Linked DNA regions of Homo sapiens: regions 1 and 3 are each reported to be linked to region 2. Evidence: microRNA targets listed by miRTarBase, many of them from high-throughput screens and not tested one by one. Region 2 holds a microRNA gene; each other region holds the end of a gene's coding sequence.

Region 1 (4,246 bases), not on the chromosome of region 2:
TGTGAGCCACCATGCCTGGCCAGGAAAGAATTTTTTAACAGCACATATCAGCACTACTTTATCAGTCTTCTATATAACACCTCACTGAAGCATAAATGTCCATCAAACAGGGAAGAAACGCTCTCATTATATTGAATGATCAGAGAATGATCTTTGTAACCACTCAAGTATTTTAAGTGGCTGCAAATGACATGTTTGGTATCCCCTTGTCCACTCCTGATACCTGACCCAGATGAGAAGGACTCATTAGTGCAGTGGATAGAGCCTGGGGACATCTGGGAGATGGAGTCAGGGCCTAGATTTGAGTTCTGGCTCTGCCACTCACTTGGCTGAATAGCTGTGTGATTTGGAACAAGTGCCTTAACATTTCTGAATCTCGATTTCCTCATCGATAAAATGGGGGCTTAAAATAGAACCGCCATCACGGGGGTGCTTTGTAAACTGTGACTTGCTCCTGAAATGCAGGGATCATCATCCGCATTGCCTCACTTGTGACCTTGCTTGCTGGCTTTCTTTGTCCCTAGCGGATGACCACCAGGCTCTCATCTGGGACATCCAGCAAATGCCCCGAGCCATTGAGGACCCTATCCTGGCCTACACAGCTGAAGGAGAGATCAACAATGTGCAGTGGGCATCAACTCAGCCCGACTGGATCGCCATCTGCTACAACAACTGCCTGGAGATACTCAGAGTGTAGTGTTGGTGGCGCTGTGCCCACGAGGCAGGGGCTTTTGTATTTCCTGCCTCTGCCCCACCCCCAAAGTAAGAAGAAACATGTTTCCAGTGGCCAGTATGTCTTTCATTGCTTTGCACCCACTGTTACCAGAAGCTGCTCTAGGAGTTCCTGGCCAGTCACCCCATCGCCCTCTGTGGCAGACTCAGTGCTGTGTGGCGCCTCCTCAGCCCAGGGCTGAGTTTTAAGATTTTCTCTCCTTTCCTCTTCTCCTTTGGTTCCTCAATTAAAAAATGTGTGTATATTTGTTTGTCAGGCGTTGTGTTGAGGAGCAGTTCACGCACTGGCTGTGTCTATTCCTCTGCCCAGGTGTCTCTGTTTGCTGCCCAAGGCAGCAGTTCATGTCTCGTCCATGTCCATGTTCGTGTTAGCACTTACGTGGGAACAAATACCAATTTGTCTTTTCTCCTAGTATCAGTGTGTTTAACAAATTTTAACTTTGTATATTTGTTATCTATCAGGCTAATTTTTTTATGAAAAGAATTTTACTCTCCTGCTTCATTTCTTTGTCTTATAGTCCTCCCTCTTTGCACCTTCTTCTCTTCCCTCAGTGCCTGGAGCTGGTACTGGGCCCCTGGCCCCATGAGCAGTTTGCCTTCTTGAGTCACTGCCTGTGTAGTACATACCTGACCGGGAGTCCAAACCACCTTGGTGCTCTGAAGTCCACTGACTCATCACACCTTTCTTAGCCTGGCTCCTCTCAAGGGCATTCTGGGCTTGTAAACAGACATAGGAAGCCTCTGTTTACCCTGAAGCACCACTGTCCAGCCCATTGGTTCCCACTGGCAGCATGGTAGAGCTGAGAGAAACAGGCTCTCAGGGTACCTGACTTGAGGGGAATCGTTTCATGAAGCTGAACTTCAAGCATATTTCCAGTACATTCTTTCAGAGTCTGTTTTTCCATCCAAATATAAGCCCCAGGCCATTCCACTTAGTGTCTTTTCAATGATAGGCAAGAATGATATCTGAGTTGAACTTCGGTGCTTCTGTTGTTTGAGTTTACTGTGCCTGGTGGTATATTGGGCATTCTTTGGATTGAGTGTTCTGAGGTGAGAGAGTCTTCCCGAGGCATCCTGTCTGTGCTTCCAACCCTGAACAAGACCTTACATGAGAGATGGACTGATGGACTGCGGCAATCCTGGGCTGTCAAGTGGATAGATAGTTAAAAAGCATTATACTGTGGGTAATGAAAAGGGAGGAAAAAAAAAGAAGGAAAAGGAATTATAGACCCCCAGGGTCAGCCAGTTAAGAGCTCTACCCACACCTGTCAACCCCTCTCTCCCCCAGTTTAGGTTCTGAGCAGTATTGGACTTGTAGCCTGCAGTTGTCTTTTGACTTGCAGGCCGCAGGTGTCTTTCTGTTATGTGAATGAGTTCCATGGAGGGGCATATGTGTGATTCCACCGTTAGATGAGCCCTTGGGGCAGGCAGTTTGGGATGTGCTCTTGGGGGAAAGTTGGCTGTTTCCTTGCGCTCTGCTCCTACCCGAAGGTTTTTAAGTCCCTCTGAATTGCTCATCTGAGATTAGTAGAGTAGCAGGCCTGAAGGATGATGGTTTTGTCCTCTTTGGTTCTCACCTGCTTGAGAAGTAAAACAGTAACTTTGTTCTTCTGGGCCCTTAAGCTTTTTTGGTTAAGTCTTCCTTTTCAGAAGTAGATGTCATTATATGCCAAAAGTCTAGCTCTTTGCTTTACCATACAGGGACCTGTCCCAAAGAAAAAGGCTCTTTTTTTAGCCAGCATATTTCCCCTTCTACCCTTTTACTTTGTTGTTCTGATTTTAGGACTCTGGCTGGCCATGTGCTTGTGGTTGCCTCTCCTGCATTTGCCACTGGATTTGCACTGCATCGTTTGGAGATACAAAGCGAGCAGTTCTTGGTCAGAACCCTCCTCTGCTTTTCATTGTGTTTGATAATGGTTACTGGGTCCTTCTCTCAAGGGTAGCAAGGCCAAGCTGATGGCTGCTTGTTTAGGAGGCCATCAGTTCCTTCCTGTGGAGAAGGGTCTGAAATGGAAGTCAGTGGTAGAAGGGGCTGGTCTGCTGGGCAGGGCTTACATCCACTGAGTTCTAAGATTCCTTTCCTGATCTGCACCTACGCCTGGTCTGTATGGTGGAATTTGTCAGCTGGAACTCAGAAACAACAACTTGAAAAAAAAATAATAATTAGAACATATTTGCATAAGATAGCTATTTACTCTGGAAACCAACAACTTTTGAGATTTCCCTTGCCCTGTGGACGCCCAGCTCCTGTCATCCTTCCTTAGGTCCTGCAGTACAGTCTTCCCCTGAATGCCACCGGGGACCCAGGGGGACTCCACCCCCCTAAGCAAGCACACACATACTCACAGTTGATGAGTTGCTGGTCTTTGAGTCCCAGCTCTCTTACCCTCCCTTTACTCCACCAGCCCGACGACCCATGACTGAGGAGGGGATTTCTACAGTCTCAGGATTTAGAAAGTCTGTAAGCCATCCATGCTCCAGAAAGCACCGATCTGTTGTAGTTGCAAAAACAACTCTGTAATTTGTTGAGGTTCTCAAACTGACAGCCAGCGAGACTGGGTGGGAGGCCCTGGATCTGTTCTCCCTGACTGCGGGAGGAGCAGCCACTAGGACTTTAGCAGGAAGCCCACATGGAGGCTCCGCCAGGCTGTGGCCCAGCTGGTGATGGCCCTTTTGCTCCTGGCAGCCTGAGGCACAGCTGCCTGTATTGTCCTCATCTGTTCTGACTGAAGGATGGAGGTGCTGAATAAATTAGGCCTCAGGCCTCTACCACCAGAGAGCTGGAGAATGGGTCCACGTCATTCAAGGACCTGAATTTTTTATGCTCAGGAGCATTGGAATCCTCTTCTTCCAGGGAGGAATTAGCCTGCAAGGTTAGGACTTGAAGAGGGAAGGTATTTAATAACTGGGCGAGGATGGGTGTGGTGGCTCACACCTGTAATCCCAGCATTTTGGGAGGCTGAGGTGGCCAGATCCCAAGGTCAGAAGATCGAGACCATCCTGGCTAACATGGTGAAACCCCATCTCTACTAAAAATACAAAAAAAAATTAGCCGGGGGTGGTGGCGGGTACCTGTAGTCCTAGCTACTTGGGAGGCTGAGGCAGGAGAATGGCGTGAACCTGGGAGGTGGAGCTTGCAGTGAGCCAAGATCGTGCCACTGCACTCCAGCCTGGGCGACAGAGCAAGACTCCGTCTCAAAAAATAAAAAAAAAAAAAAAATAGGTGAAAATTCCTTATAAATCCAGGATTGGCTCTGAGAGAACTGGCTAAGATTCAGGAAGAAACAAAAAATTCAGAATCCTACAAGGTTTTGATGACAATTAGGGCCAAAATTTTAGGAGGAGATGTAGGATGCAGGAGAAAATTAAAGTGTTTTCTTTATATCAGAGGAGGAAATAGTAGAGGTCAGTGAAGGTCTGGGGTAGGGAAACATTCAGACTGTCCATTGCATGGCTGTGGAGTGAGACTGCCCTTAGCCTGGGTCAGCCTTCCTGGGCCATAAATTGGGCATCC
Region 2 (4,246 bases):
AGAAATCACCTAATAAAATGCGCTCCCAGGAAGAAGATGGCATCATATAGCGTAGGAACCAACGTGCTCAAAGCTGAGCTGGAACAATGCATCAGTCAAAGAGTAGACAAACAGAAATGCAGGGTGTGGAAGAGGGAGGAGGAGAAGACAAAAATTTAAAAAAACAGAACTCTAAAATGCCACCATAGTAAGTGTATTAAAATAAAAATTTAAAGCCTCTAACTATGGTAGAATAACCAGATGTGAACTTGTCTGTTTGCCTTACAAAAATAGGAAACAGGATAAAACGTAGAACTAATAAATTGTCAGATATTTTACCATAAGCAGCACAGAACTATGAACTCTAAGAGAAGAGAGAAAATTGATGTAAGTTCGGTTATTACTCTGACTTTCTGTCTGAAGGGATTTTCTTGAACTTGATGCAGAGAGGTATCCAAAGCACAGCATGACAATCTCCTTGATATGAGGAGATAGAGATAGAATTTCAGACAGGTGGGTTTGGCTGGAAAATTGCAGAGCATGTATTAGAAAGAAGTATGATGTACAGACAATGGCTTTTATCTGCTTCAATCTGTTGCACAATGTAAACCACACATGCCGTGGATGAACATCTAGTAATAGTGTATAGAAAATCAAAGATAACTATGTTCACAGATTTCTCATTAGAAAGTATGCCAGGACGGGGCATGGTGGCTCATGCCTGAAATCCCAGCACTTTGGGAGGCCAAGACAGGAGGAATGCTTGACCCCAGGTGTTTGCGACCAGCCTGGCCAATATAGTGAGTCCCAGTCTCTAAAAAAAAAAAAAAAAAAAAAAAAAATTATATATATAGCCAGGCATTGTGGTTTGCGCCTGTAGTCTTGGTTGCTCAGGAGGCTGAGGTGGGAGGATGGCTTGAGTGTGAGAGGTCAAGCAGTGAGCTGTGTTCATGATGCTGCCCTTCAGCCTGTCTGAGATTGAGACTCTGTCTCAAAAAAAAAAAAAAAGAAAGAAAGAAGAGAAAAGAAAAGAAAGCAAAAAGAAAGAAAAAAAAGGAAACTATGCCAGGCAGTAGACAATAAAATATCTTTGAAGTAGGAAGGAAAAATAACCATCAATCTAGAATTTTATATAGAGTAAAATATCTACAACAAATCAAGGTAAAACTGATACTTTTCCCAACAACAAAAGTTAGAGGAATTTATCACTAACTAAATTGAACTAGATGAACTATTACAGTTTTTAAGCAAGGAAGCTGTTATTTGATGGAAGCTAAGGTATACATAATCAAACAATGATTACCAATGTAGAAGTTTCCTTTCATTTTCTGAAACCGTTTTTGGGACATAACACGCTGCTTATACTGTGTGTTTATATGGTACAGTATTATGTTAAAATAAACTAATAACATAAGGATATATATTGTGAACACAAAACAACCATAAAAATAGTTATAGTTGATTAACAGTATTTAAAATGAAATACAAAAATAATAAAAGACTGACAAAGAGCAAGTAAAAAGCAACAACAAAAATAGATGGAATAAGTAATAAGCAAGGACAAAAAAAAAGAACTATTGTTCCTTCTTTCTTTTCCTTTCCTTCTGTGTCACTTTCAGCATAGGTAGTTAAATAATGCAGTAAAGTAACAGAGAAAATAAATTATGTAATAGGGTTCCATGGTTGTTTGTGTTTATTGGAAAGTCACTGCTTGTTTGCAATTGAATTGAGTTCTGGTTTTGAATGGAAAGTGTAGCCTCTTGGAGTTGTCAACCTTGCTCACTCATTTATAGACATAAAATGCTTATCTTGTACTCAGAGTCTTGCTGAACTTTCAAGCACTGTGGGTCCACAAGAATTCTGCGTTCACGTGGCATCACAAACGCTGTATGTGAATAGAACAGTAAGAAACTGAACATGTATATCACAGACATCTCTGCTCACACTTGTACTCAAGTGTCCCATCATACTGCACTTTTAAAACACAGAGGTAAAATTATTTAAAAATTTAAGGCAGTAATAAGAGAGTGTTAAATCAAAAACAGGGCACTTCTGAGCATGAAATCTTGTATGACTGTACAAGGTACAGTGCATGAAGCTGGCCCTACATGAACAAAACGAATTATTTCCTTCTAAGTTCTAGAACAAAGTAGAGATATCCAGTCTAACCACTGAAATTCAATATTGCATCAACATTCTTGCCAATGCAATATGAGAAAGATAAAAATTAATACAACACATGCCATTAGTAACAACGTTAAAAACATGAACACAGGAATAAACTTAGCATAATGTATGCCATACCTGTTTACTGAAATCTTCAAAACTTTGCTGAGAAAAATAAAACAAGATCGAAATATTAAGATTGGTGTGAAAGTAATTGCAGTTTTTACGATTGAAAGTAACGCAAAAACTGCAATTACTTTTGCACTAACCTAATATATTGCAATGTATAATGTGATTACAGATTGGAAGGCTTAATGTTGTTATGATAGTATCTCTCCCCAAATTGATCTATATGTTCAATGCATATTTAAAAAACAATTGTAGCAAAGTTCTTTGTAGAAATTGTTAAGCTAATTCTAAATTTTATATGGAAATCCAAAGGACATATTATATACAAAATGATTTCTAGGAAGAAGAACAAAATTAGATGAGCAGCACCTTTTTCTTCCAAGACTCCCTATATACTCCTTTTAGGCACCAGTCATAGAGGTAGTATGGCTGAGGTTTACAACTGGATGTATAGATAATGGAACAGAATAGAAAATCCAGAAACATGTCATTTTTTATGTGCTTAAATTTTTGAAAGTATTTCCATGGTTATTCAATGAGAAAAATTATAGTCTTTTAAACAATTTTATCCCAGAGGGAATGTAAGTATATTTAAAGACAAAAAAGAAACCTTAACTTATAACATGTCTGCACATGCTCATATACAAGAGGTATACAAGAATAGATGGAAGAGGAGTAAGATAAAAATACCAATTAAGGCCTTTGGACTAACAAGTGATGGAGTCTTTTTTTCCTGCCACTAACACTTTTCGTATAACTTTTTCCCCTAGAAATTGTAACTAGCCACAATTTGAAAATTAGAGATTGACAGTGAAGTGTATTAGTCAGTTTTCATACTGCTGATAAAGACATACCCAAGACTGTGTACTTTATAAAAAAGAAGAGGTTTAATGGACTCACAGTTCCAGGTGGCTAGGGAGGACTCACGAACATGGAGAAGGCTAAAGGCACGTCTTACATGGTGGCAGACAAGAGAGAATGTAGACAGACAAGTCTACATTGTCTTGGCAGACAAGTGAAAGAGGAAATAAATCTTCAGATCTCGTGAGACTTATTCACTAACAGGAGAACAGTATAGGAGAAACCATCTCCATGATTCAATTATCTGCCATGAGTCCCTCCCACAACACGTGAGAATTATGGGAGCTACAATTCAAGATGAGATTTGGGTGGGGATGCAGTCAAACCATATTAGTAAGTCTCCCCTGCATTATGGTGTACTGTTAGTGTGTCACTCATATCATATCAGATTCCTTAAACATTTGTTTGCATAAAGTCCCCATGTAATTCTATTCCCCATAGTAAGTACCTGCTTCTCTAGCACCATGTACTATGTACTATGCACAAGTAGCCAGAATCAGATTTGTCTACAGAATTGGAGAACTATTATCTCCGAACTTTTGTTCTCCTGCTAACAGCTCTTAAACATTGAGAGATGTGTGTAGAGGCTTAAATACTCCAAGCGCTTTTTCTCTAATCAGGAATAGACTATTTTTGAAGGATTGAGTAAAAGCTGTTCTTTGCAGGACTTTTCTATTATCATACTCATTTTTGGACTCCTCTCATGTCCTGTCTCATTTCCCCATGTGGTTATCAACTTGTCTAGGGATAATGTAAAATAACACATATCATGCTGGTCTCAGGACAAAACTCCATTTATTACAGTTGGTGCAAAACAGTCAGATTTTATGCCTATGATGCTGGTATAATTATTATACCATGATATTGACCCATTTCACTCCAAAACCCCTTCTAGTTTGTATAATAATTTATACAGTCATCATTTTATAATGTGAAATAGTCACAACCACAACCACATTCTACCCAGGAGAGAGAGTGTAGAAAAATCTATGATAATTTAGGAAAGAAAGAGTCAGACAAAGCAGGTGCTCTTGAAGTTTAAAAACAAAACACATTTTGAACATGCAAGAAACTTTGTGAATACTGTTTGCGGAAGCCTCCTTGACAACAT
Region 3 (4,246 bases), not on the chromosome of region 2:
GCTCCCAGAGGCATGTTAGCTTTAGCAGATATTACCAAACAGTGCTGTGAAGTGAGCACCAGTTGACACTCCACCAGTGGTGCATGACAGTTCCCCTTCCTTCATATCCTTACCAGAACTTTTTATTTCTCCAGACTTAATTTTAGTCATTCTGATAGATCTGTGTAGTAGCTCTGAGATTATCATTTGCTTTTGTCAGATAAGCAATAAAATTGAGCATCTTTTGAATGCTAATGGGTCATCTGGGTATTTTGTGTATGTCTGTGTGTATGTGAATTGCCTGTATGAAGTGCCTTTGAAATTTTTTGATGATCAAAGAAATGGATTGTCTGTTTTCCTTATTTGTAGGGTTTTCTTTTTACATTTTGGATATAATTTATTTTACAACTACATGTGTCTCAAATATCCTTTTCCAGTCTGATGCTGTCCCTTTTCATTCTCCTAATACCCATCTGATGAACAGAAGCTCTTCATTTTAATGGCATTTAATGTATTAATCATTTAGATTATGATAGTGCTTTTCTCCTGAATAATAATTTTTTTGCTAACTCAGGTCTCTTATAGTGCTTTTAACAAGAGAATAGAGTGGGAAGACATTAAAAGAGGTTTTTAGTACACTTGAAATGGCTTTTAGGACCAAGATGTTGAAACATGGCAATAAAACAGGGAGCTCTCCCAGTTCCTCTTATCAGAGGCCAACCCTGCCCTCCAGGCCCTGCTCAAATTCCCCTTCCCCCAAGAGAGGGCTGCCAACCAGCTTCCCCCACTTTCAGGAAGAGCCTAGGTATATGGGTTAACCCCATACGTTGGGGACTTCTTAGAAAAACTCTAGGTTGAAATGCAGTCCCCCACAATTACCCCTCAAGAATATTCAACTCAGGTCGACAACACAGAAATTAAACCACATGGACAAAGAGTCATTCACCAGATATATTTGAAGTCTAAGCTCTTTGAGCTATACACGTGCACAAATGATTCAGTTGGTGGAAATCTTCCCCTTCCCCTTCATTGTTAAAGTTTTCAAACTTAAAATAGTGCTAAAGAGATTTGCATAATGTGCGTCATGGAAATGCTGAGGCGATTCTGACTTTCACAGTGCTAGGAGGTTCCCTTGCAACACTTCAAGGAGTCTTTCCATTTCTTATCGTTCTCCTAGGAAAAGCCCCTCTTTTCCCCCCTCCCCAAACCCAACCTAGTGAAAGAATTACTTGATCTGAGACAGGTTAACATTGACACAGAGCAATAAGTTTTACTAAGACTAACTCCAGAGGCCATACACTTCATTGTGTTTCTTTTATGACTACACAGAATGGTCATTTCAACTTTTACTAAGTTGTTAAAAATGTCAGATGTGTCTTTTAAAAAACATTTAAAAATCATTTTCAAATACTTTCTCTCATCTAGATTTCTTTAGAACCTGCATTCTGGAAATTCAGGGTAGCTTAAAAAATCAAGTCAAATGACCCACAGATGATTGAGAAGAGTCAGCTTTGAAAGGCTGGATGCTGCAGTGCTCTGCATCTGAATAGCGGAGCCTACTATTTCTTCCACTAGAGGACACCATTTCTCCACTACTAAGTCTGTAGTCGTTTATCATCAATGAAAAACCAAAAACCTCCACAGCAAAGGAAAGTCAAAGCATATGCTTATTGTACACTCCTCAGATTTTATTTTTAAAAGGAGTTTTCATTTTCCTTATGGAAACTCAGGATTTTACAAGCAATGCTCTCCTCAGTTTCACCAGTACTGTGTCCAGTACTATATTGCTATATTCACAGTAAAACGGACTTTAATTTCTGAGTGATCAGTCTATGTTTTAAGTTTCTGATGAAACTAACATACACCTTAGTCAAAAACCACAACAATCCCTCAATCTGTTTGCTGTGTTATTGTTCTTGTGTGTTTTTCTGAGGCTTGGGTAATGAAAGTACTTCCCCACTCCATTGTAATCTGCGTTTGCATCTAAAGTAATTCATTAATGTACAGGAGTAGATGAGGCCTGGCACACATAGCAGAAGGTAATGGTTCTATAGGTGTATCTTCTGTAATGCACTTTGGGCTAGAGAAATAGAAAAATCACACGTAACAAAAACAAATAACTTTTTTGAGCACACGGGTGTCGCGTGAGTAGGACCGGCATACATGTAGCTATCATCCTTCCCCATTTTAACATGCTCAGCTGCTGCTGCATTCTGGGGATTTAGCTTCATCCCAATAATCTACAACTGACACTTGCATCTTTATTTAAAAACAAGTGGTCTTGATAGCAAAGATGTTGGCTAATCATGTATATATTGGCATTAGATGTTTTGTGTCCTTTCAAAATTCAGCATTATCCTTATTAGAGTGTAATATTATCAGAGTATCTGTATTAGTATATGAAGGCATTCATAAGCAATGCACATTATGTTTTGAAGCAGCTAATTGTCGAACAATCACTAAATAAAAAACATCCAGATTTTTTAAAAGCACAGCTGAAACATTTGTACAAATATACAAAGAGAGAAAACAATCATTCAGACACCATGAAACTTTTGTAATAAATAGGTTTGTCTGAAATCAGTCTCTATCACCCTGGACAAGCCTCCCCAACGAGGCTGGGAGAGTTCTACAGGGGAGTGGTGTTTGAAATCTATTGAGGAATATCTTTGGGGCCAAGGTCAATTTTGCCTCCAGGAATTTCAACAGAGCTATGGTGTATTGACTCACAATAGTGAATATACCCAGACTTGTTGAGCTGGAATATTCTGATCATTTTCCTAATCTAGATAGGACATGGCTGGATGCTGACAATCTGTGAGTTATAAGATATCCTCAAATAATGAAAATAAATGCTGGTGATCATGCATGTCCTGGGAATGTTGGGATGCAGAGGACTGAGTGAGACCAGATAGGGATATCTCATGCAGTCAAAGTCAAGTTTACATATGGTCCTATTTAAGTGGCCAGGAGAGAACAACGCACACACATCAGGACTGGGACTGAAACAGCTCACAAACAACACAGGTGCTATTTGTTACTGATGTCTCTGGCTTGGATCAACATGAGAGAACAAAGATATAGGCTGTGCTGATTGTTTAATAAGAAAATACTACTTTTTTCCCTAGAACCTTCTAAATAATGGGTTATACTTAATGGGTATGATATGATCAGGAGACATATCACCTTTTCCTAGCCCTTTTGTCCGAGAGGCTTGATAACAAGGAAGGAATCTCAAACAACCAAACACCCAGGAATTTAAAGGCAATTTTTTTTGACAAACAACAGGGGGAAAAAGCATGATAAAGAGGAGACGGCTATTATCGAGAAGGAGCAGGCAGCTCAGTTGGACACGGAGGGTGGCAGGCCAGGACGCCGAGTTTGGATGATTTTTGGCTTTGGGGAAGTCTTTGGGTCCTCTTCTTCCTCTATGTCACTGTCGCACACGTGCACGACGACACTTGGGGTGGACTCAGTCCCTGCATGGAGCTCATACTTCTCTCCTGAAAAGCAAGAAAAATGGAAGTGAGAAAGAGGGGGGGATTTCAAAAGAGATCCTGGAGCAGGGTCTGCTTAGGAAATGACAGGAGCATTTTCCAGGGTCTCAGGAAGCCTGTGATCTTATGCAGGGATGGCACAGGGTGTTGGCAAGTGGAAAGAGATCAATTTCCTCCTATCCTGGCTCTGCCACTTATCAACTGTGCAACCCCAAACAAGCCACTCAATACCTCTTAGCCTCCACATCCTTTACCGTAAATTTCAACATGGTAATACTTCCACTCTGTAGGATGGTGGCGAGGACTGGATGGACTTGGCAGTTAGTCGTATTAGTTTCTCTTCTATTTTCCAACTTTGCTGCTAGTTTTTGAGCAACCTTGGGCCAATCACTTCACTTCTTTATCTTTTGAATATGGTAGTTTCTGAGTTCCCCTCCAGCTCTACACTTCTTACAGCCAGAGCTGCTCCAGGATGGAATAAGGTGGGGTTATCACATGCCCAGGATTCAGTGGTTACTGGGTAACTGGGTTAGATGACCATCAAGGCCCTTTCTAGTTCCAAGTGTCTACATTCTTGACTGGCTCATATTACAGTCAAATGGCTGTTAGCTGACTGGCTTTCTGTCTTTCTGTTGCTTCATTAGATGTTTCTTGAGCATCTCTCGTGGTCTATTGCTGTTCATAAAGGCTACAAGGTAGAATAAAAAGTATTTGTGCCTTTCACAAGTGCACAGTCCAGTGGAGACATGTGGAGACAGAACATATCACAA

What was found. Region 2 holds the annotated microRNA hsa-miR-548g-5p (UGCAAAAGUAAUUGCAGUUUUUG, at 2,387-2,409, opposite strand). A microRNA usually pairs through its seed, bases 2 to 8, with sites in the 3' UTR of a target mRNA and lowers its output. Matches are read on the target gene's strand: a 7mer-m8 pairs with bases 2 to 8, a 7mer-A1 pairs with bases 2 to 7 and ends in A, and an 8mer does both.
Region 1: the mRNA of DCAF7 is a reported target of hsa-miR-548g-5p. Seed matches in the 3' UTR shown: 7mer-m8 at 3,403-3,409.
Region 3: miRTarBase lists RCAN2 as a target of hsa-miR-548g-5p. The part of its 3' UTR that is shown has no 7-base or 8-base seed match.

The regions. Positions count from the first base shown.
Region 1 is chr17:63,588,476-63,592,721 of GRCh38, forward strand. DCAF7 (DDB1 and CUL4 associated factor 7) reads left to right here. Exons shown (of 7, transcript NM_005828.5): 7 at 525-4,246. The coding sequence ends at 697. Among named protein-coding and RNA genes, the nearest start is that of TACO1, 10 kb to the right of the region's middle.
Region 2 is chr21:18,683,749-18,687,994 of GRCh38, forward strand. It overlaps MIR548X (microRNA 548x), which reads right to left and starts at 2,416; the gene lies at 2,342-2,416. The region is part of intron 2 of MIR548XHG (MIR548X host gene); the gene reads right to left.
Region 3 is chr6:46,219,820-46,224,065 of GRCh38, forward strand. It overlaps RCAN2 (regulator of calcineurin 2), which reads right to left. Exons shown (of 5, transcript NM_001251974.2): 5 at 917-3,482. The coding sequence ends at 3,322. The region is part of intron 1 of LOC105375079 (a long non-coding RNA gene); the gene reads left to right. Among named protein-coding and RNA genes, the nearest start is that of ENPP5, 51 kb to the left of the region's middle.